4 separate regions of the Homo sapiens genome follow, and regions 1, 2 and 3 are each linked to region 4. The links come from fine-mapping of genetic effects on gene expression. A gene starts in region 4. Each other region holds a variant in brackets. All regions are shown on one strand. Distances are from middle to middle.

Evidence for each region. PIP is the estimated chance that this variant, and not a neighbour inherited with it, causes the effect. A credible set is the group of variants that fine-mapping cannot tell apart.
Region 1: its variant is the best candidate, but not a certain one, in a credible set for the expression of CSF1R in breast (GTEx, PIP 0.90).
Region 2: its variant is the best candidate, but not a certain one, in a credible set for the expression of CSF1R in whole blood (INTERVAL, PIP 0.78).
Region 3: its variant is the best candidate, but not a certain one, in a credible set for the expression of CSF1R in whole blood (TOPMed, PIP 0.78).

What each region holds. Positions count from the first base shown.
Region 1 is chr5:150,061,058-150,067,583 of GRCh38, forward strand. CSF1R (colony stimulating factor 1 receptor) reads right to left here. Exons shown (of 21, transcript NM_001288705.3): 11 at 666-792; 12 at 434-538. Among named protein-coding and RNA genes, the nearest start is that of CSF1R, 22 kb to the right of the region's middle. RefSeq lists a silencer at 3,778-3,953 and an enhancer at 5,904-5,953. The variant G/C (reference allele first, on the strand shown) is at 2,650.
Region 2 is chr5:150,117,644-150,123,589 of GRCh38, forward strand. PDGFRB (platelet derived growth factor receptor beta) reads right to left here. Exons shown (of 23, transcript NM_002609.4): 15 at 5,399-5,558; 16 at 4,237-4,397; 17 at 3,561-3,679; 18 at 3,245-3,367; 19 at 2,369-2,480; 20 at 1,824-1,923; 21 at 1,104-1,209; 22 at 1-207. Among named protein-coding and RNA genes, the nearest start is that of CSF1R, 34 kb to the left of the region's middle. RefSeq lists enhancers at 517-1,104, 2,765-3,672. The variant C/T (reference allele first, on the strand shown) is at 3,030.
Region 3 is chr5:150,108,135-150,116,423 of GRCh38, forward strand. PDGFRB (platelet derived growth factor receptor beta) reads right to left here. Exons shown (of 23, transcript NM_002609.4): 23 at 5,705-7,812. The coding sequence ends at 7,629. It also overlaps a transcript of CSF1R not described here. Among named protein-coding and RNA genes, the nearest start is that of CSF1R, 26 kb to the left of the region's middle. RefSeq lists a silencer at 1,912-2,206, enhancers at 3,252-3,764, 4,475-5,224 and a promoter at 5,136-5,914. The variant T/C (reference allele first, on the strand shown) is at 5,071.
Region 4 is chr5:150,082,295-150,090,583 of GRCh38, forward strand. It overlaps CSF1R (colony stimulating factor 1 receptor), which reads right to left and starts at 4,260. Exons shown (of 21, transcript NM_001288705.3): 1 at 4,085-4,260. The coding sequence starts at 4,133. RefSeq lists a promoter at 4,133-4,565 and an enhancer at 4,318-4,347.

The sequences.
Region 1 (6,526 bases), 22 kb before region 4:
CCCAGGGGAGAAAGCAGGGCATACCCCAAGACCCGGAGTGACCAGAAGCCAAAAGAAGGAGAAGGAAAAATGCAGACACACAGATGGCAGAGAGAGAGAGAGGAGGGATGAGCCTGTCACTGAGCTGGTCTTCAGGTGACAGGAAGCCAAACTGTGGCCAGGCCATGGCCATAGGTGGCCTTTCTGCACCCCCAGACTTTTTGGAGCTCAGTCAGGAGCCCCTTCACAACTAAAGGGTGACCTAGACCTTCTTGGAGCCGGGAGTCAGAGGGTGCCTGGAGCTCACAAGAAAACCCAAGTCCTCACCCCTGAGCTCTGTCCCCCAGGCTTCAACAGGTTGAAATGTGTGTGATGCCTCTTGTGACACCAGGGCCAGCCCACCCCCAGCATCTACCACCCCCCATCCCTTCCCTCATCCCCTCCCCTCACTCACACTTCAGCATCTTCACAGCCACCTTCAGGACAGCATCCTCCTTGCCCAGACCAAAGGCCGTGGCCTCCACCACCTTCCCAAAGGCTCCAGCTCCGAGGGTCTTACCTGCCACGCACACAGGTCCCTTAAGTCCCTGGGCACCAAAGGGCCTCTGTCCAAGGGCCCATGGGCTCCCTGCAACCCCCACAGGCCCTGTGATAGGAAGCTGTGGAGTGATGAGCTGCCATCTCACCAAACTGCAGGTTGTTCCGGGGGAACTCCCACTTCTCGTTGTAAGGCAGCTGCGTGGGGTCGATGAAAGTATAACTGTTGCCCTCATAGCTCTCGATGATCTTCCAGCGGACCTGGTACTTGGGCTTCTGCAGAAGAGGAAGGGAGCACGTGGCAGTCGGGGCTGGCAGGCAGTTCCTGGACCTTGTTTCTGACCCCCAAGAGCAGGGGTGTGGGCAGTCCCAAGGCGCCCAGTGGGAGAAGGCAGGGCAAGGCCTGCTCTGGGCTGAGAGAGGTCGTCTCATGAACATAGCACTGAGAGCATGTTCCTGCTTGACTCTGCCTTGTTGTGTGACCTTCCCTTCTCCAAGCCTGTTTCACTATTTGTGTATTGAAGACCTTGGACAAGACAACCTCTGAGGGCCCTGATATCTCTGATAATCTGGTAATTCCTGAGCCAGGAGGGAGGGTGGAACTTGAGATCTTATCCATCCGTTCATCTGTCCATCCATCTACCCATCCATCCACCCACCCAACCTCCCATCCAAATATATATATATATTTTAATTGTGATAAAACATACATGAAATTTACCATTTCAACCATTTTTAAGTGTATGGTTCAGTAGTATTAAGTAAATTACATTCTACCTTGTGCAACCAGTTTCCAGAGCTCTTTTCATCTTGCAAAACTGAAATTCTGTTCCTGTTAAAAAGCAACTCCCCTTTCCCTCCTCCAGCCCCTGGCAACCATGATTCTGCTGTCTCTGTGAATTGCACTGCTCTAGGCACTGCACCTCAGTGGACTCACACAGCATGTGTCTATTGAGATTGCCTTATTTCACCCAGCATAATGTCTTCAAGGTTCATTCATGCTGCAGCACAGGTCAGAATTCCCTTCCTTTTTAAGGCTGAATAATAGTAGCCCATCCACATACTTTCTTGAACATCTATTTGTGTCAGGCACCGCTGATTCAGAGTTGAACAGGACAAAGTCCCTGCCCCTCCATGGAGTTTGCATTCTAGTGGCTGAGAGAGGCATTAAACGCAAATAAACATGTATCTAGGAGATTCTCAAGTGGTGCTATGAAGAAAATAAAGTAAGATAAGTCAGGGAAGGCCCCTAAAGAGCCCACCATGTGACCATCAGAGGAAGAATTTTCCAGGAACAGTGCATGGAAATGCTGTATGCTTGACATGGGAATGATCCTGGCAAGTTTGAGCTATAGGAAGGCAGCCATCATGGCTTGAGGGAAGTGGGGGGCAGATTCCAGAAACAGGAAGGCCTTGAGGGCTATGATAAGGTGAGTGGGTTCCCTTTTGGGATTTTTTTTTTTCCAAGACAGGATCTCTGTCCCCCAGACTGGCATGCAGTGGGGGCAGTCTTGGCTCACTACAGCCTCGACCCCCGAGGTTCAAGCAATCCTCCCACCTCAGTCTCCCAAGCAGCCGGGACTACAAGCATGTGGCACCACACCTGGCTAATTTTTGTAGAGACGGGGCTTTGTCGCAGCCTAGGCTGGTCTTGAACTCGTGAGCTCAAGCAGTTTGCCTGCCTCGGTCTCTCAAAGTGCTGGGATTACAGGCATGAGCTACCATGCCTGGCCGGGCAGTGAGAGACCCTGAGAGTTTGACACAGGTGAGTCGCCATCTGACTTTTTTTTTTTGAGACAGAGTCTTGCTCCTTCACTCATGCCGGAGTGCAGTGGCACGATCATAGCTCACTAGGCTCAAACTCCTGGGCTCAAGCAATCCTTCTGCCTTGGCCTCTCAAAGTGCTGGGATTATAGGCGTGAGCCATCGCACCCAGCCTTGACTTTACCTTTTTGAGAGAGAAAGAGAGACGCTGCCCACTAGATAGATTCTGGAGGACCAGCACCTTTGGAAAGACCTGATTTCCTTCCTTAGGCTCTCCATGCTGTTACCACCCAGCCAGGGGAGGCAAGCCCTGGGATGTGGGGAGGAGGAATGGCTGCCCCTGTTTCTTGCCCAGGGGTCAGCTGCTGA[G/C]GGGGAGTACCATGCTAAGGGTTGCCCACAAGAAATGCTGATGGAAGACCAAGTTGAGGGGGAAAGTGGAAGCTGGGCTGGGGCGGTGGAGGACACTGAGGCCCTGGGTCAGCAGAGCAACTCTTTCCGGCCAGGCCTTGGGGATGGGACAAGCTTGGCTGTGCCTGCAGCTGGGCTCCTTCCCTGGGCACCCGAGCTAGAAACTTAAAGGAAGTGTGGACCGGTGCTAGGGAGGAGGCTGGCCTTTAGCTGCAAGTCCTGGTTGAGAGAGAAGATTCCAGTCATGTCCTTTGCAGCAACGTGGTGCAGCTGAAGGCCATTATCCTAAGCAAATTAACACCGAAACAGAAAACCTACATACCGCATGTTCTCACTTATAAGTGGGAGCTAAATATTGAGTGTGCATGGGCATAAAGATGGCACCAACAGACACTGGGGGCTACTAGAGCAGGGAGGGTGGAAGCGGGCGAGGGTTGAAAAACTATGGGAGCTATGCTCAGTAGCAGGTGATGGGATCCATATTCCAAAGCTCAGCATCACGAAACATACGCATGCAACAAACCTGTACGTCTATCCCCTGAATCAAAAATAAAATGTGGACATTTTTAAAGAGAGAGACAGGGAGAAAGCTTCCAGCTAACCATCAGGAAGAACTTCTAGCTGGTAGTTAGAGAGAAAAGACTGCAATTAGAAATGAGAAGGAACTAACTTCCAGGCTCTGATTCGGAAGGGCGGACTGCAGGTGAACTTCAGAGCCTCTGCGTTATAGCTTGGGAGAGAGTCTGAAACGGGACCCAGGGAGAAGAACTTCCCAAGCCTCTGAGGATCCAAATCCTGCCCGTGGGTGCCTTCCCAGCCCAAAAGACAGCAACAAGGCAAGGAGGGGATTCTTCAGCCTCTCCTGGCCACTTCCATCTCTAGGAGCCTCTGTGGCTAAGACTGTTTTTTCTTACCACTTCTTGTTCCTCTGTCCCTCTGCAGCTGGGCTGAGTCAGCCCCTCCCTGCCCCCAGCTGGGCAGGGGGCACTGTTGAAAGGGAGGGGATCAAGGAGGATGGAGGTTTGGCTGGATTCTCAGATTTCTGAATCCTAGGCTCCTAATTTCTGGAAGCGGACCAAGCTGCCTTCTGCCTGCCTCAGGAACCCTCCCCTGCCCCTGCTGGGCATGTAAACCTCCCAGGGCACCTGTGCCATCCCTGGAAAGGGCTCATGGGCGTCTACCCAGAGGCAGCCTCTCTTCCAAAGAACTATGAGTGAGAGATCAAGAGGTGGGGATGGGCGAGGCTCCCTGAGAAGGGTGGACGTAATTGTCATGATGGCAGCGGGTTCTTCCTGAGCTCTTCCTGGGAGTGGGGCGCTGGGCTAGATGCTTGAAGCACATCACCCCATTCATTCCTTGCAATGGGCCTAAGCCCCAGGCCCACCCCCTGACTTCTTCCCTTCCTCCCATCCTCCCCACCAAAGGGGGCATGGAGACAAAGTCCCGGTCCCCTCCCCATCTAGGCCTGCTGGTTCTGGGTGAGTGGATGTTCTCCATCCCAGGAAGGTGGAGATCTGAACAATTCCCAGTGGAATCTTTGGGGACCCTCCTGTTGCTCCTCAGAGCTCAGTTCCAGCCCCCAGAATCGTAGTCTTTCCAGCAGCCTCCCTGGACCCTCCCTTCCCTGCTGCCTCAGCCATTTCCCTGTGCGCCTCCTCCTCCAGGGGAGCCTGCTGACTCCTGCCCTTTTCTCTTCCCCCACGGCCCCCCTTGTGGTCACTCTGGGGGACAGAAAGGTGATGATTCAGCCCTGAGGCAGAACAAACACTCCCCACAGACAGGCCACTTCTTTCCCCAGGCCTGGGCAATGAGGAGAGGCTGGGCTGAGTCCCCAGTGAAGGGGCAAGGCTCCGAACCTCATGGGGCAAGGCAGAGGAGGATGGGAGGGCAGGCACTTAGCACGGGCATGACCATCCTGCCCCCTCCGCTCCCATGGGTGGACACCTCGGCCTGGAGCTAAAGGGTCTGTGAATGGGTGTAGGGGAGGAGGGTAGCTGCAAGTCTTCTCGCAGCCTTGCATGGGCTCCAGGGGCAGCTGAATTTCCTGGACAGGAAGTGTGGAGGTGACATGTTCCAAAAATGGTCCCGTGGAGAGGGGATACAGAGTTCCTAAACCACAGCCAAGGGGGCTGGCCAGCCCAAGGCAGAAAGGGCCGCAGGGGGCCCTAGGCTCTTCTCTGGAATCTCTGCATGACTGTCCTGGCAGCTCTGTGGGCACTGCGAGGCAGTTTTCAGTTCCATGTAAGGAAGAACTTTGCAAACATTGGAGCTGCTCAGAGAAGGAACAGGTGGCCCCGAGAGTGAGTAAGGTCCTGTCCCTGGAGGTGGGTGGGCTGGGCCAAACAACCGCTTTGGGTGTGTAGTCAAGGAGATGATGCCCGACCTCAGACCTCCCCCTCCTTCCACCATCCCAAGAGGCATGAGCTAACTCTGGTTCCCCAACGAACTTCCTCCTGGGACAAGAGTGTGCAGCTCCCATCACAGAGACTGTCTCGTCCAGCACCCCGCTCAGTCCTCTATGTGCGTTGTGGTACGGAATCCCTCACAACAGGCTGTTAATGATCCCATTTTACAAATGGAGAAGAGACTCAGACACACCAACTTTCTCATCATCCCATAGCCAGAGCTTGGCAGAGGCAGGATTTGGACCCAGATTCACTGAAGTCCAAGTTTCTGGTGCTTAAACTAGACCACCAGTGGGCTCTTGGCATGTCAGAGGAGGAGGGGCTGTTAGAGAACACCCAGACCCATGGTATAAGAGGGGAAACTAAGGCCCAGAGAGGACAGCGAGTCAGCTGAGGTTACATGGCAAAACAGTGTCAGAGCTGGACCTAGATCCGGAGGTATTGACCGGGGCTGCCCTCAGAGCAGCCTTCTCATGCTGAGTGCTGGCAGGAGTAGAGATCCCGATCCATGTGCCCCTGGGGCTCCCCCAACATCCTTCCCACCCTGCCCACTTCAAGCCCTCTTCTCACAAAAGCCCCAAGGGGGTGTGGGGAAGAAAAGGTAGCCAAGGGGACACAAGATGGGTCATTCAGTCCTTGATCACACCACTCCCTTGTTCAAACCCACTGATGGCCTTGGACCGACAGGGTGGGGTCCAACCCTTCAGACCCCCAACCCCACCCTGGTCCTTCCCTCACCTGCACCTCTGCACACTCTGCCCTCTCCCCCAGAGGTACCCTTTCCCTTAGTGTCATCTCCCCTGCTGCATCCTCATCCTCCAAAGCCCGTCCCACCAATGCCAAGCCACCTCCTCCAGGCAGTCTCCCTTACCCACCAGCCTGAAAAGTCCGTCCACCTCTGAACTCCCACAGCCCTCTGGCCTGGTCCTCTCAGCTTCTGATCACATTGCACATGGTCTTTGTGTGGGCAGGCAGGCAGTGGAGGCCATGGGCTCTAGGGACAGAAGCCCCTGGGGCCCAGTGCCAACCCTATCCCTCAGCCCCTTGGGGTTTTTTTTTTTAACCTTGCTGAGCCTCAGCTTCCTGATGGGTAAGATACTGACTAGTATACTTCCTGCCTCCAGCTTCTTGTGAGGGTAAAATAAGATGAGTCAATGTTTCACATAATGATTGGGACATGCTTTGGAGTGAGTCCTCCTTCAGGGTTAAAAACCAGACTCTGCCTTTGACCAGCTGTAGACAAGGGCAACTGTCCCAACCTCTCAGAACCTCAGTTTACAACTCTGTAAAACAGACTAATGCTAGCTGCATACAGTGGTTGCTGAGGGCATTAAATGAGATGATGTAGGTAACATGCTATAGAAAAATGCCCCTCAAATCACTGTCATATACTGAGCAGACAGTGACAGGAAGCACACTATACGCAACATGCA
Region 2 (5,946 bases), 34 kb after region 4:
TGGGCCCTCGTCAGCAACCTCGGGTTTGGGGTCAGGCAGGGGGATGATATAGTCGTTGTCACCCTCATTGGGCTGCACGGCAGTATAGAGGACGGAGCTGGTGTCCAGGGGAGATCGGAGGCCATGGAACCCAGGCAAGCGGGCCTGGGACCGAAGGATGGCTGGGTGGTCACTCCTCAGAAACTCCTCATCCACCTGCTGGTACTTCTGCTCCCGGGGCAGGGAGAACCAAAGAAACAGGGATGGTCAGGCCAGAAATGCCTTCAGGGATCTTCTAACCGAGCCCATCCCCCTTTGTATAAATAAGACCCCCGCTGCTCAGAGGGGAAAGGGATTTGCCCAAGCCACATGGTTGAGCTGCCCTCCTACCTCACATAGAATCTTACAAGGCATGGTGAGCTCAGGACCACCCAGGGAGGGGCAGTTATCAGACCAGCACCCAGGACTCTAACTCTTCCCCCACTTCAGAGCAGACAGGCACAGGCTCTCATGCTGCCTCAGCGTCCTTCTTCAGGGCCTCAGTTTCCTTTGCTGTGAAGTGGTGATGACCTTACTCCATCTCCCAGGTCCCTGGGACCATCCCCGGGGGGCAGTGGGGGTGAGAAATGGACCCAAAGAAGGAGCTGCCTCTGTGTCAAAGGCCATGTGTATTTCCTCCTCACTTGGACCCGTGTTGTTGGACGGGGCAGGGTTTCAGGGCCCTACTGGCTCTTTGGGCCTTGGACAATCCTGTGACAGGATCCAAGTGGTCAGGCGGTTCATGGTCATGTAACCTGGGGTTATTCACACTTCTGAAGGAGCCCCACGGTTCGGTATGGAGGTAAAGGCCTGAGGGAGGCAGCAGGACAGACAGTGCTCTAGGCCCCCTCCCTGCATCTAATCGATCAGCTTCCATGTAGGATTCCATTTCATAAAGCTCTCTGCTGCTAAAATAAACTCACAGCGCCAGCCCATCCCCTCCTAGAACCAGCAGGGAAACTGAGGCCCAGAGAGGACAAAGGGTGGTCCCCTAAATGCCAGCCCATCACGCAGAGCCTTGTACTCGGTGTCTGACTTCTGCACCAGAGCTCTCCGTGCTCCACCCCTACCCTGCCTCAACATACCTTTTTGTAACCTTCGCCCAACAGTCTCTCGAGAAGCAGCACCAGCTGGGAGAAGGGGGGCCGAATCTCAAACTTCTCTTCCCAGCACTTCTGCATGATCTCATAGCTGGGGATAGGGAGAAGGGTCAGGGCCTCTGGCCCAGGGTTCAGGGGACAAGGCAGGGCTGGGGGAGCAGGAGGCTGCTGCCTCTCAGAACAAGGTGAGCCATGGAAAGGAGCTGGAGGGAAGTGGTGGCTGGGTGTATCCAGAGGTCCTGTCTCTGGATATTCCCTTGGGAGGCCCTCGCAGAGCCCCCATTCCACATGGTTCCACAGGTTGACTACGCCTGGGTGAGCACAGGAGCCAACCTTCGCCAACAGTTTTCAGCCCTGCAGCTTCCACGGTTGGTTCTTGATGGCATGTGACCCCACCTGAGCCCTTGAAGGTCAGCTCTGGGACTTTTGCTGGCACTATGGAGCAAGCAGTAGGACATGAGACTGGCACTGCTGGTAGCCATTTGGGCAATGCTGGCCTGAAAATGAGGCCACACAGAGCAAAGCAGAGCTCAGGGCTAGAACAAGAGGTTCCTGATGCCATCCTTTGAATGGCTGGATCCAGTTACACCAAGGCTTTCTAGATCTCTGAGCTAACAAATCTCTCATCTTTGGTTTAAGCCAGTAGAGTTGGATATCTATTGTTTGCAGCACAAAATCCTCCCAAATGCATGAGACTCCACTCACATCTCGTCGGAGGCATGGGCAGGCTGGGCCATGCGGTAACCCCGTTTGATGGCATTGTAGAACTGCTCGTTCATGGGCAGCTCTGGGTAAGGGGTGCCACCTGTTGGGGAGCAGAGACAAGAGATACACAGGCTCAGGGGTGGAAAAGTGGCAGGGCACCCTCTTCTACAGGACAAGGAGAGCCATGCTGGCCCTGGTATGGGTAAGGGGGCAGTGCCCCTGGCATTTGGAACTGTGGGCTCCTTCATGGGCTCTGAACAGAGACCACAACCCTCCCCAGGATAGACAGCCAGAATGTGAGAGCCAAGCAGGCTTTCTGATGTCACTGTTCAAACCTGTCAATGCTCAGACAGGGAGATAAAGAGACCCAGAGAGGGCAAAGAATTTGCTAACATCACACAGCAGGGAGAAGGTAGCAGAGCTGGGACCTGAACCAGGATCCCTGTATCAGGGCTCGTCCCATAGCCCCACCAGGCCAGAGGCATGAGTGGTCGAGGTAGACACCAGGCCAGGATGCTGAGGGCTGGAGGAGGAAGCAAGCATACCCAAGGTGAAGATCTCCCAGAGCAGGATCCCGAAGGACCACACGTCGCTCAGGGTGGTGTAGAGGCTGTTGAAGATGCTCTCCGGAGCCATCCACTTTAAAGGCAAAAAGGTCTGTAGGGAGGTCAGGACAGGTGCTGAGTGCAAGGAAGGACCTCAGCCCCACTCTGCACCTGGGATGGGAGGAGGGTATCTGGCAGCTCCCACCCACAACCACTTCTCCGTCCCATTCCCTGTGAGGGCCCTGGTCTCTGCGCAGCACAGTTCCCATGTCCATCCCAGGGCTGGTCAGAGGACCAGAGGCTGTTTCCTTTCTCACTAGCTGGGGACAAGGCAGCCCCTGTCCCTGGGGAAAAGCCCCAGGGTCTGAGTAGTGAAGTGTGGGAGCCAGGGACTTGTCAAGGCACCCCCCAAGCTCTTATCCTGGCTGCCTTTGATCTCTGGGCCTAGCGTCCCTCCATCTGGGGTTTGCGGAAAAGTGGGGAGATGAGAGACAGGCAGGATGATCACGTTTTAACCAGACCAATCCCTGCTACTGCATGTGACCTGCTCATCTTTCTTGCCCTGTCACCTGGGCTTCTTCCTCTGCCCACCACCACTGGAACAACACATTCGGCCTGTTCCCCCTTCCCCCACCCTGGACCCATTATAGCCAGCCCTCCC[C/T]GCCGCTATACTTGCTCCATGCACTCCTGGGCGGCTCCCCATCCTGTCCCTGCACACATAGCTGGGCAGGCACAGCCCATCACTGCTGTCAGGGCAGGCCACAAGGAGCCCCACACAGATTTCCTATGAGCTGCAGCCACACTGGTCAGGAGGGAATCTGTTCCTGCGGTCACAGGCACTGTGACTGCCCTGCAGGGGCCAGGGAAGGTACTCACGCTGCCTTTGGAGATGTAATTCGAGTCCCGCATGATGTCTCGAGCCAGGCCAAAGTCACAGATCTTGACCAGCTTGCCTTCACAGATGAGCACGTTCCTAGCCGCCAGGTCTCTGTGGACGCACTGGGTTTGGGGAGAGGGGAGCTGAGGCCTTGGGGACAATTGTGGGGAAAGACCCTTCATGTCAAGGGCTTTGGGAAAATACAACACTGCCCATGTGCGAGAGGCCACCCTGGTGTGCTCTTGGAGGATGCTGGCTGGCTGGGTGACCCACCTCCCCACAGCCCCCACTCTGCCCCACCAACACCACACGTACGTTCTTGGAGGCCAGAAACTCCATGCCATTGGCCACCTGGTAGCTGAAGCCCACGAGGTCCATGTAGCTTAGCACTGGAGACTCGTTGATCAAAGTTGCTCGGCAGGTCCTCTCAGGGGCTAGAGGAGAAGCAGAGGGTCACCTGCTATCTTATATCTCCTTCTGGCCCACAGGACCCCTGCCCTTTGGCTCCTGGGAGACTGAATGTCCAAGACAGGTGGCTACTGATCGTCTAGGTCTCCCCTAAAAGGAGAATGATTTCTTAATATCAAACTCAAAGTTCTCCTGCTTTATCAGTGCCCTCATTGGCCTTTTGGCATTAGCCCTTGGGCCACTTTTGCCCAGCCTGGCCTGCCTGCCTGCCTCTCAGGGACACTAGACCAGCCTGGGGCTGAAGCTGAGTAGATCACTTTCCCTACCACGACAAAAGGCCAGGTCCTCCCATATCCCTGCTCTCTCCCTCCCTGAGGGTTCTACGCATGTTTCCGGATCCATAAACAGGGCTTCCGTTTAGGGGTCCACTACAGATCAGTTTTGGCCAGGTGGCTAGCCTCAATTTCTACATCTATGAAATGGGCACGAGGCTCCCTTCTTCTCAGGGTTTTTGGCAAGGCTGGGCATGTGAAGAGCATCAGCCTGTTTGGATGTGGGGTACTATGTCACTATGTCCACCCACCAGAGGGAACGTAGTTATCGTAAGGGGCCATGTAGTTGGAGGACTCGATGTCTGCATATTTGACGTCTCCTTTCATGTCCAGCATGGGCACATAGTCCACCGACTCGTCCTTGCTCATGTCCATGTAGCCACCGTCGCTCTCCCCGGTCAAGGACACATGGCTGGGGGTAAAGGAGCATCACAGGAGAGCCTGCAGGCTTTGCCTTCCCCTCCCCTCCTGCCCCTTGCCACTCATGAATTTCTTCTCTCACTCACACACTCACTCATCTTCCTTCAGTCTATCCCAGTAGGAAAGCCTGTGGATCAAGACTTTTCAACCAACCTGCTGGGCCAAGCTGGGCACTGAGGCTACCAAAATGACAGTTAGAACCCAGAGAGCTCACACCCAGAGGCGATTACAGCACCCCAGGGCAAAGGTCACAAGACGGGTGTGTTCAGAGGCGCCTTCCTGTGGCCTCCCCAGCGCCACCTGGCCATGGGAGTGCCTGACTGCAACCCAGCATAGGCAGCCAGGATTCACCCCGCTACCTATGCCTGTAGCATCAGCTCCCCAAAGAGCTGTGGGGCTCTACACACATCTGTCTCTATAGGCAGGAAAAAGATGGGAGAAGCCCTTTGGCTCCTGGGAGACTGAATGTCAAAACATTGGAGAGGACATGAGTGGGTTTTAAGGTCTTTTACGCTTTTCTGAAGCTACTCTTGTCTTTGTTTTTGTAATCAGCAACAGAACTAAGAAGTGTTCTTTTTGGAAAAGACAAAGACTGGAGTTGAGCTCCCTGAGAGGCAGTGTGGAGGCTGATGTGTAGAGGCTGCAGAGAGGAACACAGCCTGGAGCACCACTGTGCAAATTGGGAGGCTTGGCTCTCATCTCACCACAGCCTCTGCCCCTTCCTCCATCACTGCCTGCCCTGGACTGAAGGGCAAACACCCACGACACAGGGATGGCATGTCACATCTGTAGAGGGCTTAGCAGCACAGGGCCTGGCATTAGTGTTATTCCCTCATCTGGGGTGGACCATCTTGTGGAACAGCCCTAGCTCCAGGAGTGATTCTGTCCCCTGCCCTGTCACAGCCTCAGCTTCCCCTCCTGGACAAAAGGAGGGGAAGGAGCGGTGCTCCTCAGGTATCCCAAAGATTCAGTCCCTGGCCTCCCTCCTGGTACCTGGGCAGGGGGAGCCCAACGGGCAGAGCATTGCTGTAGAGCTCCGCGCTGGGCGGGCGGCGCTTGTCGGAGTGGTGCTGCAGGAAGGTGTGTTTGTTGCGGTGCAGGTAGTCCACCAGGTCTCCGTAGCGGCAGTACTCAGTGATGATATAGATGGGTCCTGCAGAGGGACAGGCTCAGGGACAGTCCCTATGGAGGCCTCAGGCGTCCCTTCAAGGCCATGAGGCTAATCAGGGGCTGGATGTGGGAGAGACACTTTGGCATGACGGCTAGGAGGCTTTAGTGCCTTGCAAATCTGGATTCTTTTCCTGCCTCTGTGGTGGAGAGCAAGGTACTTAGTCTCCCTGAGCCTTACCTTCCCCAGCTGTTAAGTGGGGCTAATTAAACCCACCACAAAGCACTGTCATGAGGATTAATGAGATGATGTCTTTATTGGCTGGGCACGTGGCGAGCTCGCAGTGTTGGCTCTTATTGATATGTTTTCAAACTAAAGCTTACTTTGGAGCCCAGTATAGAAAGCAGATAAAGGCCACTGTTTACAACGATCA
Region 3 (8,289 bases), 26 kb after region 4:
GAGGCGTAAGAGTGCACAGGGTATGGGAGGCTAAGAATGCTGAACAGATGTGAGGGCCCATAAGAGGCACAGACAAAGGAATGCGAAGAGAAATCATTTTCAGCTGAAGAATGAGGAAAGCTTCTTGGAGAAAGTAGCTTTTGCTGGGCTGGAAGCTTGAGCAAGACTTTGACCTTCAGCTATAAAAGACTGGGCATTCTAGGTGGTGACGGTAGCACCAAAAAAAGGGGCAGAGGTCAGGAAGCTAGTGGCCCACACAAGGTGGATGGACCTTGGAGGGCAGATGTGGGAGAGGCAGTAGGAGAGGTTGGAATCAGATCAGGGAGGGCCTTAAAGATTCCATGAAGGAGTCTCGACTTTGCTGGGCCACGGGGAGCCACTGAAGATGTTTGAGCAAGGGAACACCAAGACCATCACTATGCTTCAGGAAGATCAAGAATGAAAAAGAAAAATTTTCAGATGTGGAAGCTTCCCTCTTGTCTCTTCAGAGGGGAAAAAAGGGACTTAGAATTCTGTGATTTTCCAGAAACTGTGTTACTTCCCCATGTTTGTGACTTTTCTAGTTCCTGCAGTGAAGACCCACAAAATCTAAAACCAGAGACTGTGGATCTGCAAAGGGGAGCTGGGCAAGGGCAGCCTGCTGTGAAGCCCTGCAGGAGAAGGCGAGGAGCCCTGAGCAGGTGGGGGGTGGGAGCTGCTGGAGAGGGCAGACCTGTATGCCAAGAACATGTGGGTGAGGGAAGAGCCAGCTGGGAGGGGGTGGTACAGGGAGACAGTTCGGCTTCTGTGATGTCCCCAGGTCCCTGCCCCAGGCCAATGGTCCCTCGCCAGACCCCTACACAGTGGTGGCAGATTTTCTTCCAAGCTGTGGGAAACTTTCATGGCCCAGAGCGGCCCCAGAACCCCATCCCAAGGAGAAGCCCGCCCCCCCCCCACCACCCAAGAAATTCCAGGAGCCACATTCTGTGTAGGCAGCTGGCCCCTGACCCCAGGGCTCAGCCTGCTGGCCACTCTGAGATCTGGAACTGGACCTAGACACCCCCGGGGAAGGTAGGAGCAGGGAGGCTGGAAGGCAAGAGCCTCCCTGCAGTGACTGTAGCCAAGCCACTTGATGGCTCTGAGCCTCAACCTCCTCATCTGGAGGCTCCTCTCACAGGCTAATCGTGAGGATCCGATGGGACCACTGGTAGGAGCACACCCTACACCATGAGGGACTGGGGCAGAGCAGGGCGGTGAGGGAAGGCTGGGTTTCCCGACGGGTGGGATGCCCTGTCTAGATGTGGGATGATGGATTAGTAGAGCTGCAGCAGCACTGAATGGCACTGTGGGAAGCTTCCTGCCTTGCCAAGTCCTCTGGGTGTTTCTGGTTATGCCAAGGAGAATGTTTCAGCTTGGCGCATTTCTGTCTTCAACTCTTCTCTGTCACCCACTTATGACTTTTCTCAATAAACCAAAGAGGGTCCATACTTCCTCCACCAGTCCAGAGTACTTAGCTAGAATTAAATAACGTTGTTTCTGTTGTTTGTATGTTTGATTTTCTCAGCCGCCCAGGGCACTATATGTACTTAAAAGGGAATTTTTAGACTTCAGTGACATTTTAAATGTTTATTCTCTTTACTCAACAACTCAATGTCTAGGAATTTATGCTATGGAAACAAATACTTAAATATGCAAAAACAAACATATTTTATAAATAATGGCCATTGTAGCATAACTTATAACTCTAAAAAATGGGAAATAGTCCAAATGCCCCTCAGTAGGAGATTGGTGTTAAATATAGTGAACCCCAAGTTTCTCTTCAAAGAATCAGTATGTCAATATGTTCAGCTCTCTTATTCTTTGATTCTCCATTTTAAAGTTTAACTTCCTGGATCTCTTCGCCCCCTTGCTTCTGGTTTCAGTAAACAACTTTCCCACCAGTCCTAATCAGTTCACATCTGTTCCCCTGGTCACCTGCTTTGACCTGAGTCACCTGCTCCATCCTGACTCATCCTGAGCCACCTGTTCGTATCCACCTTTCCCACCAAACTACTCACCCCGGCACTCCAGCTCATGCTCCTGCTCTTTTTTTTCAAATAGCCAATTGGAATTAGCTTAGACTATGCGGTCCAACCCTAGCCAATAGGGGAACAATGCAGCAGTAGAGGCTGCCTGTGTCAGGAATAAGAACCTCTTCCCCTCCCCTGTCAAGGTGTGCTCTCGCCATTGTTCCATCTGCCAGGAGCACCCTCTCTGCAGAAAGTAAAAATTGCCTTGCTGAGGAAATTAAATTTATGTTCGAGTGCTATTTCTTTGTGGCACTGGGGAACAAGCATTTTGCATTTCTGACATTGGTTAAATAATGTCTGGCACAGGCTTGCTTTTAAACTATGTGCATCTCTCAAAATGAATGCATTAATATCTGTATTTCCCATGGACCTATGAGTATGCCCATGATATATTGTTAAGTGAAAAACAAAAAGTTGCACAATGACAAATGGGAGTTTTGTTGAAGATTATAGCTATATTCTATGTAGATAGGTACAGATACAAATATTAGTATGGATATAAAGAAAACAACTTTGAAAAATATAACTAAACTATTTATAGTGAGAGGCAGAATTTCAACAAGATAAATTTGTACCACAGAGTTGCTGAATAAAGAGAATAAAGATTTAAAATGTTACTGCATTTAACATATAAAAATACTCAAAGAAGACCTTCTCTTTCTATATTATGTATTTTGGTAATGGATTTTTAAATACAGGCATATATGACATAAATACTTGTATCAAGTAGTTTTTTTTTTTTTGTCAGATCACAGGACCTTATTAAGATGGAATCACTGCTAATTACATAGAAGCCACTTGCCTAAGCCAGAATCCATGAGGTTCACGTGAAGTTATAGTTGCACAAATTAGAAACAAAAGGCATATTCAAAGACAGAAGGAAATATCCTGATGCCCATTAAAAATAATTTTTAATTGCAAAACCGAACATTATAACTAAAATAAAAGGGGCCTGTTAGAGACGGTGCCCTGATTCAAAGAAGAAGGGACGTGAATGGGAGCTGTGAGACCCTCATCAGCTGCAGGTCAGGGCCCCGGCAGAAATAGCTCCTTTCAGTCTTTCCCTCTTTTTCCAGGAACAAGAACCCCGGCCGTGAGTGGGGTGGCGGAAGAATTGTGCAGTCCAAGTGGCTCATCTGTCTGGGAGGAAAATCCCAGCTCACCCGTCTTCCCTGGGCCCGCCTGAGGGGAGAGACTGGGAGGCAGGAGCCCAGCAGGGGCTGACCTGTGGTTACCCCAGACCCTGCCTGCCCTCTGCACAGGGGCCTGAGAGGCCCAAGCCCTCCCACAAATGAGTTTTTATTATTTTTCTCTAGCTCTCAGATGATGTTAGCTTTCCTTTCTCATCCAGTCCTTTCCTATCCTTTCTCTTGGGGAAACACAGTACCAGAAGGTCTGGAGACAGAAGATAGGAGTTTTGTCGCAGGCTTCCCCAGTCCCTAGCTCTGCAAATTTGGGTGGGTGCTTTACCTCCCTGAGTGCTGACTTGGGAGTCAGTCTGACCTGGGCTCCTCTCCCATCCCTGCCACACTGACCAGATGATCTTGGGCAAGTCACTTCAAAACCTCCCTGAATGCACATTTGATTTGGTTTGAATGCAAATCAAAATTGTGAAAATAAAATAAAATTTCAGGAGCTCCCCAATTCATTATGCCAATGGGAAAAGTTAAGCCCTGGAAACTGAGTCACATCACAGGACTGCTCTCTGACCATTGCCTCTTGATTTTTGTGTTGAGAATGTTATACTTTAACCGGGCTCCCCATTCTTTATTCAAACCTGGACTAAATGACACGCTGGTGATCATTACCTCTTTACAAATGAGTGTTAAGCAGCCCCCTTAAAGTGTAGTCAATAGTAGCCAATCAAATCTTGTAGCTCTACGTTAACCTTTGTATGGAAAATGTAATTGTGTTACCCACCCGTTTCTGGCTATATAAACCATCCTCACCTTGCCCCACACAGGGAAGCACTGATCACCATTCTCTGGTTTTCCTGTTTCCTGACGACTACCCTCACACTTTGCCCTTGAATAAACTTCTTTAACTAGAAAAACAAAAACAAACAAAACAACAACAGCTTGGACTGGTGTCTCATCTGTAACATGGGATAATAGTAGGACTCAGGTCACTGGGCTTTTGGGAGGGTAAAATGAGCTAATGTGTGTGAAGCAACCAGACAGCCCTGGGGCATAGTAACTGTTGGATAGTGGTAGTCAGATTTTTATCAACCTTTGTCTTAGTGTGGCATCTAGCTCCATTTATCCCTGGGGAAACTGAGGCCTGATGTGGTGTAATCCACTCAAGTTCCCATAAGGAGCAGGCCTGAGACACAGGGAGCTGAGATCTTCTGACCTCCAGACAGAGGCTTTTGCACCAGCAAAGATAATCCCTGTCTGGAATGTGGGCTAGTTATTTTCTTTACAAGGCAGATCCGGGTATCACCTCATTCAACTCCTGCCACAGCTAGAAGAGAAGTCACAGGCTCTGGGTGTTTTCTGAAGCCAGGATCCCTGGGATGGTGGGCTTTGTATGGCCAGGCCTTATAGCCGTCGGGTATTTTCCCTGGTGTGGCTCAGCTGCCCCTGAGTTGGCGGCTGGGCCTGTGAGTCAGAGCTGTCCCATGGCTCCATTCTTTTCCCCACTTGAAGCCACAGCCCCAGACTCCTGGAGGCAGTCCAGGGAGGCCTGTGGTTCCAAAATGAGGTCCTTCCCGCACCCACTCAAATGAAGATGCCGTTTCCCCAGCTCAGAGAGAGCAAGGGAGGGGCTAAGGACACACAGTGATGGATCTGAGGCTGACATCTGGTCCACCTCAAGTGAGCCAAGTACAGGACTCTGGGCCCAGGTGGGAGGGCCCTAGCACTCTGTCCCCTGCCCCCAGCAACCCTATTGCCCCTGGCCCTGTGTTGCTGCCGGGGTCCCACAGGCCTGGGCTCGGCAGGAGAGCCTATGACTCATGCCGGCCCCACAACCCCTGAGATGCTGCAGCCGTGAGGGGTCTGGGTCCTGCCAGGTCTACACC[T/C]CTCTGCCCTCAAAGCCACAGCCTGGTCGCCACCCTATTCCCTCCCCTGTCCTTACCCTGGCCGCAGTTCCCTCCGCTTCCTCTCTTCCTCTTCCTCTTCCTCTTCTCTCTTCTCCACCTTCTCCTCACTTCGTGCTCTCACGCTTTTGGACACTCTGTCTGCCCTTCTCCTACCTGGGGCCTGATCATGACTCACCTGGACCTGGAATCTGGGCTCTAGCAGCTGCCTGTCACAGAGCACGCCGGCCTCAATCCGGGCCTGTGGGCGGAGTGGAGGGGAGGGTGTCCCAGCTGATAGCCAAAGCCAAAGCACATGGTGGAGGCAGTGAGACGCCTCAGCACCAGAGCCTTGGAGCAGCCCTGCAGCCCCACACCCTCCTGCCCGACTCAAGGCCAGGCTCTGTGGAGCCAGAAAAGCCTGCTCGCTTCCCACCTTGGGAAACCAAGCCCAAGGTCTAGGCCCCCCAGCTTCCAGCGAGGGGTGGGAGAGCGAAAATCCCCACTTTACAGATGAATGAAATGAGACTCAGAGCTGAAGGGACCTGTCTGGGGGTCTGCGTCTGGGTGAGCCTCATGTGCCCCACTCCACACTCCCTATGGGCAGGAACCCAAACCCGAGAGAGACCACAAAGTCTGTGAGTGAGAAGCACCAGGTTTAATATTAAAATCTTTCCCTTAAAAAAAAGTACACAGATAGAAAAACTCAACAGCATACAAAATAGCATTTCTGCTGTATAAATGTGAGTTAACGTGAGTCCTAAAAATATTTGTAAACCTAGGTGATTATATCTTTGGTACCGTATTGAGAACCCACTCTCCCTCCTTGGACCAACTCTGGGGATCCCAGGGAAGTAAGGTGCCAACCTGCAATGCAGGGTTGGTGCCCAGAGGGGTTGAGCTTCCTGCACCCCCTTCCCAACCCTCCCCGTGCGGGGGCGTCTTGGCTACAACCCTGACTCCCCTGGCACCTCCAATGCCCACTGGGCTGGGGACAATGAGATGTCACTGCTAGGTCTGGGCAGTGACAAAACCATACCCCCATGGAGCGCTGCCTCAGGGATGGGGCAGCTGGTGGGTGAGGGGCAAACCTCCAAAGCGCCCACCTCTCACATCCTTCTTGGGGTACCCATCTGAAGCTTCTTGTCTTTTACAAGACATAACTGTCCTCACTGTCCATTCTGTCTTCGACGCAGACCTCGGCACAGGTGCTGGAGTGGTGGGCTGCAGGAGGTGATCTCATTTGCCCTCTTTGTCCCTTTTGCCCAGGATACCCCCGGAGGTCATCGTGGGTAGTGAAAGAGGTCCCGTGGTCTTCCCATGTCCCTGGGGCAGCTGCTGGGGGCTTTCCAGGACACCGGCTGTCACTCTAAGTCAAGGCCTGTGCAGCTGTGTTCTTGAGACTTGCTGGGGGCCTGGGGAAGGGGCATGGTTCCTGAGTCCCCAGAGTGTGATGTGTGATCTGGAATCTCCCAGGAGCCCAGCTGACCCCCAGGATGGAAGTTTAGGGTATATGGCCTTGCTTCATCTGGACAAATGTGCAACCACCTGGAATACTCTAGAATGTTAGTGCTGGCAAGGCACTCAGAGTTAATAAGTCCGACTTATTCATTTTTTGAAGGGGAAACTGAGGCCCAGAGAGGGTGAGGGATTCCTCCAAAGCCTCATAGCAGGTCCAATGCAGAGCCAGGGCCATATACTGGCACACACACGTGGCCACTCCACACTGGCACATTTACATTCTCATCACAGATGCGGGGCCCGTCTGGCCTTCTAGACTCTGGTGGATGGATTAAGACTGAGGGTGATAAAGAAAAAGCCCCAGGACTGATGGGCCTGAAGGACAGGGACACAGGCACTTGCTATGGCTGCGTGTGCTCCAAGTGCCCTGGGCAAGGGCTGCAGGCTGGGGGTGTCCTGTACTTGGCTCAGCCTCCAGCATTAATTAGGCTGCCTAATGGCCCCAGACCAGCTCGGGCCAGGGAACGCAGGGACTGGCATCATAGGGAGGAGACTGGCTTTCTTCTGGATGAGGCAACACTGCTCAAGGCTAGGCCCTAGCTCAGCCAGCAGCCAGGGAGGCTAGGGTCTCTTCCCTAGCTCCTGGGTGGATAAAAGTGCGAGGAGAGAGCTATGATTCCTTGAGGGGTAGCTGGCTGAACAGAAAAAAGTTAATTTACCACCTCAGTAACTCCAAGAATCTTCCCAGGGAGGGATTCGGTCTCCCCACCTGTCAGCCAGGGAGAGAATCCTAGATTCTGGGTCATCAAGCCTAACTTTCCCATTTTACATATGGGAAAACTGAGTTCCCTGGGGGAACCCTGGCTCAGAGTCAGTTGGCCTCCCTGGAGGCAGAGGGCTGGTCACGGCCCCTGCAGTTTTCTTGCCTCCTAAGCCAGCCCCAGGGTTTGGGGCACAACACGTCAGGAGCAGAAAGCTTCCAGAAGGGGACAGCTGATAAGGGCAGCCTGGCTGACAGGAAGCCCGGTCAGGCCAGGCCAGGAGATGCTGGGTGCTGGCAGGGGGGGAGCTTCAGGCAGGGCAGGGTAGGGGCCAGCCCCCTACAGGAAGCTATCCTCTGCTTCCGCCCGAGGCGCAGGGCACCCCGAATCCGGCAACTGTTCCAGCTCTGGCTCCGGCTCCACCTGGAGCTCAAGCTGGGGCTCTGGCTCTGGTTCGTCCTGGGGCTCCAGGGGGCTGTCACAGGAGATGGTTGAGGAGGTGTTGACTTCATTCAGGGTGGAGCTAGAGGAAAGAGGCAGTGAGTGAGGGGCTAGGAAGGAGCCCAGGAGGATTCCAGCAGCAGTCATGAAGAGCCTTCGGTGTGTCCACCCCTGCACCGTAGGCTTCACACACTCCGGCTCATTTAACTCTTGTGAAAACTATGCAAGGCCTGCACCGTGAGGAAAGTGTGGCTCAGAGAGGTTATATCACTGCCCCACTTCACACAGCAGGGAAGTGCAGGAGCTGGAACTTCGGAGCAGGGTCAGCTGGCTCCAAAGCTCGTTTCTCACCCACCAGCATCTCCCTCCTCTGCACTCCTAAAGGTGTATGCTATCTCATTTAATCCTTGCAATGACCGCCTAATAGAAGTACTTTTACTGTTTGTATTTTACAGAAGAAGACACTGGCCGGGCGTGGTGGCTCACATCTGTAATCCCAGCACTTTGGGAGGCCGAGGCAGGCGGATCACCTGAGGTCAGGAGGTTGAGACCAGTCTCA
Region 4 (8,289 bases):
CTTGAAATGGAAATTCCCCCTGCCCCACCATAGAGCCCAGAATTGGAAAGGTTTCCTCTCTCAAGTCCTTTCAGGATGGCTTAATTCACGTTTTGATTTTGTATTCATCAGAATGTGCATCCCTTCTCCCCAAGACTCTGATCAGCAAACGAGATTGAGTGAATTGTGAATACTGCCAAGCCTGCCACCTGGGGTTGTAGCCCTCCTATGCAGTGCAACTGCCAGGAAGAGGGACAAGTGTCATTTCTAGCAGCCTTTTTAGCAAATCTCAACAGAGCTGGGGCTGCCCTATCACTGCTGCAGCAATCTAGGGCCCCCAGGCCGGGGTTTTATAGCAGGAAACAGCTTGGAGTGTGGGCTCACACCAACTTGGGTTTGGATCTTGGTTCTTCCCTTACCAGCTGGGTTAGTTTCTTAACCTCTTTGAGCCTCAGGCTATTCTTCTGTCTGATGGGAATAATCCCAGCTCCCACCCCAAAAACTTCAGCTGAAGGTTGAGTGAGATGATGTATAGAACTACTCCTGCCCTGGGCACCTGCTTTAATTGCTACATTTCTAATGTCCCTTCTGGGCCAACTCTGATCGCTCAAGATTTTAACCTTGGATTCTGTGATTCCATTTGTTCCTTTTTTACACCTGCCTCACACCTTACAGTGGGCTTCTCCCATCCCTTCCCCCAGCCTGTCTCTCTAGACCCTGCCTTGGCCTCCAGGAAATGTGGTCAGGGAGCGGTGTCTGCCCTATTTTGTCCTATCCTATTGTCCCAGGTATTCACGCAGGATAAGGCTGATACCCGCAACTTCCGCAGCCAACTTCCCCTGCTGGCTTGGCTAGCAGGGAAGGAAGCCGGCTTGGCCCCCATCCTCCTCGGGGTGGGGGCATGGGCTTATGAACATTAACTGAGGTCCCCTTCTGTGCCTGTCCATTCTTCCCCCCTCTCATCTCCACTCCCCAATTCTCCCCATGCCCCACACCTCTCCACTAGCTCCCACTTGCCTGGAAGCCCCTCCCTCATCACTTCCAGAATGTGCCCCAATCTCTACTCTTCTCTCCCAACACACACACACACACACACACACACACACACACACACACACACACACACACTGCACACTAAGGCTGGACACAGCCCCTCTTCAGCCCAGGATCTCATCGCAGTAATGAAGAGAGAGCCCCCCTCTCTCTCTAGGGTCCTCCAATACCATCCCCAGTCTCCTCACAGTGGCCCCTCATCCACTCATCATTGGTCTGTTGGGCTGAAAACTTAGGTTTCCAGCCTCCCCATCTCTTCTTTCTCTTGGGACTGGACCCTGGAAAACCATCTGGCCCCCCTCCCACACACCATGCCCCTGTGAAGGGAAAATAAAAACTTGGGACCCTAATTCACTCTGCCAAAAGGAAAAATCAAGCTGGAAACTGAGTCATGCAAGAAGCTGCCTTGCCTTTTATTCCTAAGCAGATAGCGACAGATAAAAGGTAAAATATCCCACAGGCAGCTCCTCTATGTTCACTTTCCCTATGTAAAGAGCCAATTTACTGAACCGAGATAATTGACTGTTCCCCTACCTGCTGCTTTTCTTTTGCAACATGTGGATTACCACAACCTCCCCTTTTCCCCTCCAGCCCACTTTCCCCTTTAAATATTAAAGCCCTCGAATTCATCCAGAATGGCACAGACCACAGAATGTTTTTGTGACTCCATGTTTTTTTCTCGCCAGCATGTCCTTAACCTTGGCAAAATAAACTTCTAAATTGATTGAAGCCAGGCACAGTGGCTCATGCCTGTAATCCCAGCACTTTGGGACGCCAAGGCAGGGGGATCGCTTGAGTTCAGGAGTTCGAGACCAGCATGGCCAGCATGATAAAACCCTGTCTCTACCAAAAATAAAAAAATTAGCTGGGTGTGGTGGCAGGCACCAGTAATCACAGCTACTCAGGAGTGGCAGAATTGCTTGAACCCCGGAGGCGGAGGTTGCAGTGAGCCGAGATCCATGCCATTGCACTCCAGCCTGGGCAACAGAGCAAGACTCGGTCTCAAAAAGATAGAAAAAAGAAAGAAAGAAAGAAAGAAAGAAAGAAAGAAAGAAAGAAAGAAAGAAGGAAGGAAGGAAGGAAGGAAGGAAGGAAGGAAGGAAGGAAGGAAGGAAGGAAGGAAGGAAGGAAGAAAGAAAGGAAGGAGATGGAGTCTTGCTCTGTCGCCTAGGCTGGAGTGCAGTGGCATGATCTCAGCTCACTGCAACCTCTGCCTCCCGGGTTCAAGTGATTCTCCCACCTCAGCCTCCTGAGTAGCTGGAACTACAGGAACCCACCACCACACCCGGCTAATTTTTGTATTTTTTAGTAGAGAGGGGGCTTCACCATATTGGCGAGGCTGGTCTGAAACTCCTGATCTTGTGATCCACCCGCCTCGGCCTCCCAGAGTGCTGGGATTACAGGTGTGAGCCACCATGCCTGGCCACAAGACTCCATCTCAATAAAAAAAATAAAATTAAATTGAGACCTGGCTCAGATACTTTTCCGTTTTTGCCCCACAGGCAGGTTGTGGGTGTAAGGATAGGACAAGGCAGTGAAATCAAACCTGTGGGACTCTCTGAGATGAAGGGGGTGGCGGGTACACTGTGTGTGCATTTGTCAGACCTCATTGAACTTAAGAACCTGTGCTTTCTACTGCATGTAAGTTACATTGCAAAATAAGAAGTCCAGGCCGGGCGCCGTGACTCACACCAGTAATCCCAACACTTTGGGAGGCCAAGGCAGGTGGATCACCTGAGGTCAGGAGTTCGAGACCAGCTTGGCCAACATGGTGAAATCCCATCTCTACTAAAAATACAAAAATTAGCCAGTCATGATGGTGTATGCCTGTAATCCCAGCTTGGGAGGCTGAGACAGGAGAAACACTTGAACCCGGGAGGTGGAGGTTGCAGTGAGCCGAGATTGTGCCACTGTACTCCAGCCTGGTGACAGAGAGAGACTCTGTCTCAGGAAAAAAAAAAAAAAAACCCAAATACTCAAGCTCAGTGTGATTGCCTGGGCCAGAGAAGGATGGTCAGTGGGCCATCTCCTCCTCATCAGGGACCAGAAGCGCCACGGCCTTAGGGTCCTTCTGTGAAGAGGCCAGTATGAGGCTGTCCTTTCTCCCCTTCAATCCCCATCCTCCCCCAAGGTCCCTTTGAATAAGCAGGCAATAGAAATGTGTTTGTTGGGCCAACAAGCCAAGCACAGCAGCCCCTCACCTCTAGTCATGTTCCCTCCCAGATGGAAATTCTGCAGAACTGCTACAGCCTGGGGACCTCCTGAGACTTGGCAGCCTGTGTCTGGGAGGGCTCTGGTCCAGGAGACCCTCACTGGCCTCTTCCCAATCCCTCCTCTAGCCCTATACCTATTTCACCCCGAATTCCCCTCTCCTGAGCCCTGGGCCAGAGAGGCCAACCTCTTGTCTCTCCCCTCTGACCCCTTACACAAGCCACCCAAGGAAGAACCACCACCCCTATCAGGCCCTTCCAAATCAGATCTTGCATAGAATCATCGAATCACAGGCTGGCAGAGCTGCCAGAGCCATCAGGAGCTCTCCAGGTCCTCCCAACTCAGTGTAGGTCTGGACCAGCAGTGCCGGCATCTCACATCTCCCAGGAGTGTGTTGGATATACAGAATCTCAGGTCGCACCTGAGACCGACTGAGTCTGAATCTGCATTGTAACAAAATCCTCAGGTAACTTGTATGCACAGGAAAGTATGAAAAGCACTGCTCTGGTCTAGTCTATCACTGTCCCCCTGCCCCCAACACCTGCAATTGAATAGAAGTGGACACTGAAGCCTCAAGAGTATCAGAGGCTTGCTCAGGACACACAGTGAGTCGCTGGCAGAGCTGGGACAGATCCACAGCACCAGGTGGACCAGTTCCACCACACCCATCTCTTTTCACCCCACTACCTCTCCAAAGCAGATACCCACAAGCCTGCAGTCCAGTGTTGGGGAGACTAAAACAGCCTGAGGACACCCAGTGAGGGGCAAGGACTGAATCCTTTCACAGGGGTCTTCTCCATCACACCCCAACAAAGTCCCCCACCCCCCGTTCTGCTCTTACCATGCCAAGCTGTGGCCACCAGCAGGAGCAGCAGAACTCCTGGGCCCATGGCCTCGGTGGGGAAGTGGCAGGCAGGTGCAGGGCTGCAAGGTGCCCAGGGCACAGAGCTCTCAGCTACTAGCTCCGCAGGGATCGGGACACTGGACACACGTTCCTCTCCTCTGCACTGGCTGTTTGTCTTGTTTTCCTCTTCCTCCTCCTTGGGCTGATCCTCTTCTTCCCCTTTTAGCTAGGCAAGGCAACCACAGAGTTTGGAAATCTTGGGTCTTTAAGAAGAAAACAAAGCCTTGAACCCAAGAGGGAGGGGTCGCAGTCTGGGGCAGGGCCAGCCTGAGCTTGGGGGGAGCTAGCTAAGTTTGGGGCCCTTCTAAAGCCATCTTCAAGGGGTCTTGGGAGAAGAGACATGTCCAAGAGCAGCCAGACCGTTAGTCAGTAGCACAAATGAGGGTCTTCAGAGTGATCAGGTGGCTCTGGCAGATCCCAAAGAGAAGTTAGGTTGCATGATATTGTGACATATATATTTTTTCTTTACCCTGATGTCCTGGCTTACAACTCCTAAAATCCTTGGAATCTCCAAAGTAATGCATATCTTTTAAAAATTTATTATTATTATTTTAGAGACGCAGTTTCACTCTGTTGCCCAGGCTGGAGCTCTGTGGCTCGATCATAGCTCACTGCAGCCTCAAACTCCTGGCTCAAGCCTTCAAGCTGTGAGATCTGACGTTATCTCTAGGTAAATATAGTGTTCAAATTGAATCGGAGGGCACCAGATTCGTGTCTGCTGCAGAATCTGAACAATTGGTTGATTGCTTGGTGTATGGGGAAATATGCCCCATCCTCTACATCTGGGGTCAGAAGTATTTTGTGTTGTGAGACTATAGGAGAAACGGAGTTTGTTTTCTTCCTGTATACAGGTTGGTCTGGGAGAGCCTGATAATATTGGCAATAAGCTTCCTTTTACAGGACATTTACTAGCCAAACCTTTTACATTCACTGTCTCCTTTAGTACTGCAAAACTTTATGTAGGTAAGTACTATTGTCATTCTCATTTCACAGATGGGAAAACTAAAGCTCAGAGAGATCAAATGCCTTAAGCTTGTCCATAGTCAAACAGCTACCAAATGGTGGAGATAGGATTTGGATCCCAGCAGTCTGGTTATAAAACTATCTTTTGTGCGTTACTTACATTGTTTATTTATTTTTACAAAGAATCTAATTGTTCTGCATAATTCTTAAAATATATAGCATTCCTTTGCTCCCTCTTTTCCTGGAGGCAATTGCTTTTACCTCTTTTAGTTGATTCGCTTAGTATTTTACTTCTTATCTCTAAAGAACATGGTCATTTCTTCTTCTTTTTTTCTTTTTTTTTTTCTGAGACAGGGTTTGGTTCTGTCACCCAGGCTGGAGTGCAGTAGTGTGATCTCGGCTCACTGCAACCTCCACCTCCCGGACTCAAGCCATCCTCCTACCTCATCCTCCTGAGTAGTTGGGACTACAGGGGCATGTGCCACCATTCCTAGCAAATTTCTGTATTTTTGGTAGACATGGGGTTTCACCATGTTGTCCAGGCTGGTCTCAAACCCCTGAGCTCAAGTGATTCGCATACCTTGGCTTCCCAAAGTACTGGGATTATAGGTATGAGCCACTATACCCAGCCTAAAGTTCCTTCTTGAAATTGAAAAATCCTGATATAACATTGATCCAGGAAAATGATCATTCCCGTGTACTCAGGTGTGTGTGTGGTGTGTATGTGTGTGTTTGTATGTATATTTATGAGTGTATATATGTACTTTCTTTTTCAGAAAAGTGTTTTGAACCTTTAGCAATCATGAATGTCAATCAAAGCTGACTCAAGAAGAAAAAGAAAATCCAAATAAACCTATAACAAGAAAAGAAATTTAATCAGTAATCAAAAACCTCCCGACAAAGCAAAGCCCAGGACCAGATGGCTTCACTGGTGAATTCTCCCAAACATTTAAAGAAGAATTAATACCAATCCTTTTCAACTCATTCTATGAAGCCAGCATTTTTCTGGTACCAAAGCTAGACCAAGACATTGCCAGAAAAGATAACTACAGACCAATACAAATGCATGAATATAGAAAGCAAAAATTTTCAAAAATGTACTAGCAAACCAAATCTTTTTTTTTTTTTCTTTCTTTCTTTCTTTTTTGAGACAGGGTCTCACTCTGTCACTCAGGCTGGAGTGCAGTGGAGCAATCTCGGCTCACTGCAACCTCTGCCTCCCGCGTTCAAGCTATTCTCGTGCCTCAAACTCCCGAGTAGCTGGGATTACAGGCATGCGCCACCATGCCCAGCTAATTTTTGTATTTTTAGTAGAGACAGGGTTTCACCATGTTGGCCAGGCTAGTCTTGAACTCCTGACCTCAAGCAGTCTGCCCATCTTGGCCTCCCAAAGTGTTGGGATTACAGGCGTGAGCCACTGCACCCAGCCACCAGCAAACCAAATCTAACAGCATATTAAAATGATTATATACCATGATGAAGTGGGATTTGTCCAAGAAATACAACAGTGGTTTAACACATGAAAATCAGGGTAATACATCACATTAATAGAATGAAAAAAATCCTCATATGATCATGTCACTTGATGTAACTGTAAAACCCAACATGCTTTCATTAAAAACAAAACAAAACAAAACCCACCCAACAAACTAGCAATAAAAGGGAACAGCCTCAACGTGATTAAGGGCACATGTGAAAAAGCACAACTAATTCAATGGTAAAAGACTGAGAGCTGGTCCCTTTACATCAGGAACAAGACAAAGATGCCTGTTCTCGCCACTTCTGTTCAACATAGTACTGGAAGTCCTAGCCAGAGCAATCAGGAAGAAAAAGAAACAGAAGGCATCCAAATTAAAAAAGAAGAAGTAAAACTATCTCTGTTCACAGATGACATGATCCTATATATAGATAAATCCTAAAAGATCTACAAAAAGCAACTATTAGAGTTAATATACAAATTCAGCAAACCTGCAGGATACAAGATCAACATACGTAACTCTATAGTACTGATAATACTCCAATAAGGAAATTAAGAAAACAATTTAATTTGCAATAGTATCAAAAATAAAATATTTTGGAATAAACTAAGGAGATGCATGACTTTACAATGAAAACTACAAAACACTGTTGAAAGAAATTTAGAAGACCTTAATAAATGAAAAACCACCTTGTTTTCATAAGTTGGAGGATTTAATAAGACAGCGGTACTCTCAAAGTGAGACTGATTTATAGGGTCAATATAATCCCTATCAAAATCCCAACAGCCTTTTTCTGCAGAAATGGAAAAGCTGATTCTCAAATTCATATGGAATCTCGAGGGACATTGAATATGCAAAACAATCTTGGAGGAGTCACACTTTTCAATTTCAAAACCTACTATAAAACTACAGAAATCAAAATAGTGTGGTATCAGCATAAGAATAACTATATGGATCAATAGAATAAAATTGAGAGTCAGGAAGTAAACTCTCACATTCATGGACAACTGATATTCAACAAGGGTGGCAGGACCATCCAATGGAGAATGACCAGTTTTTTCAACATAGGTGCTAAAAGAACTAGATAGTCACATGCAGAAGAATGAAGTTGAATCCTTATTTTACATCACATATAAAAATTAACTCAAAATGAATTAAAGACCTAAATATAAAAGCTAAAATTATTAAAACCTTAAAAGAAACCATAAAGGTAATATTCATGACCTTGGAATTGGAAATGATTTCTCAGATATGTTTCTAAAAGCACAAGCAACCAAAGAAAAATTGGACATAATAAAAATTAAACATTTTTGTGCATCAAAGGACACTGTCAAGAGAATAAAAACACACAGAATGAATATTTATATCCACAATAAATAAATATATCCAGAATATATACAGAATGAAAGTTGTAGTGTTTCCTCAGCAAAAATCACTCTTGGTGCATAGTTCTATGAGTTTTGACAAATATATATAACAATGTAACCACCACTGTAGTCAAGATATAGAACAGCTCCATCACTCTAGAAAATGTTTCTCATGCTGCTCCTTTATAGTAAAGCCCTCCCCAAACCCCTTACACCAAACAACCACGGATCTGTTCTCCATCCCTGCAGTTTTGCCTTTTCCACAATGTCTTTGTGCTTTACAGGATAATGTCATATAAATGGAATCATACAGTGTGTAGCTAAAGAATGTATG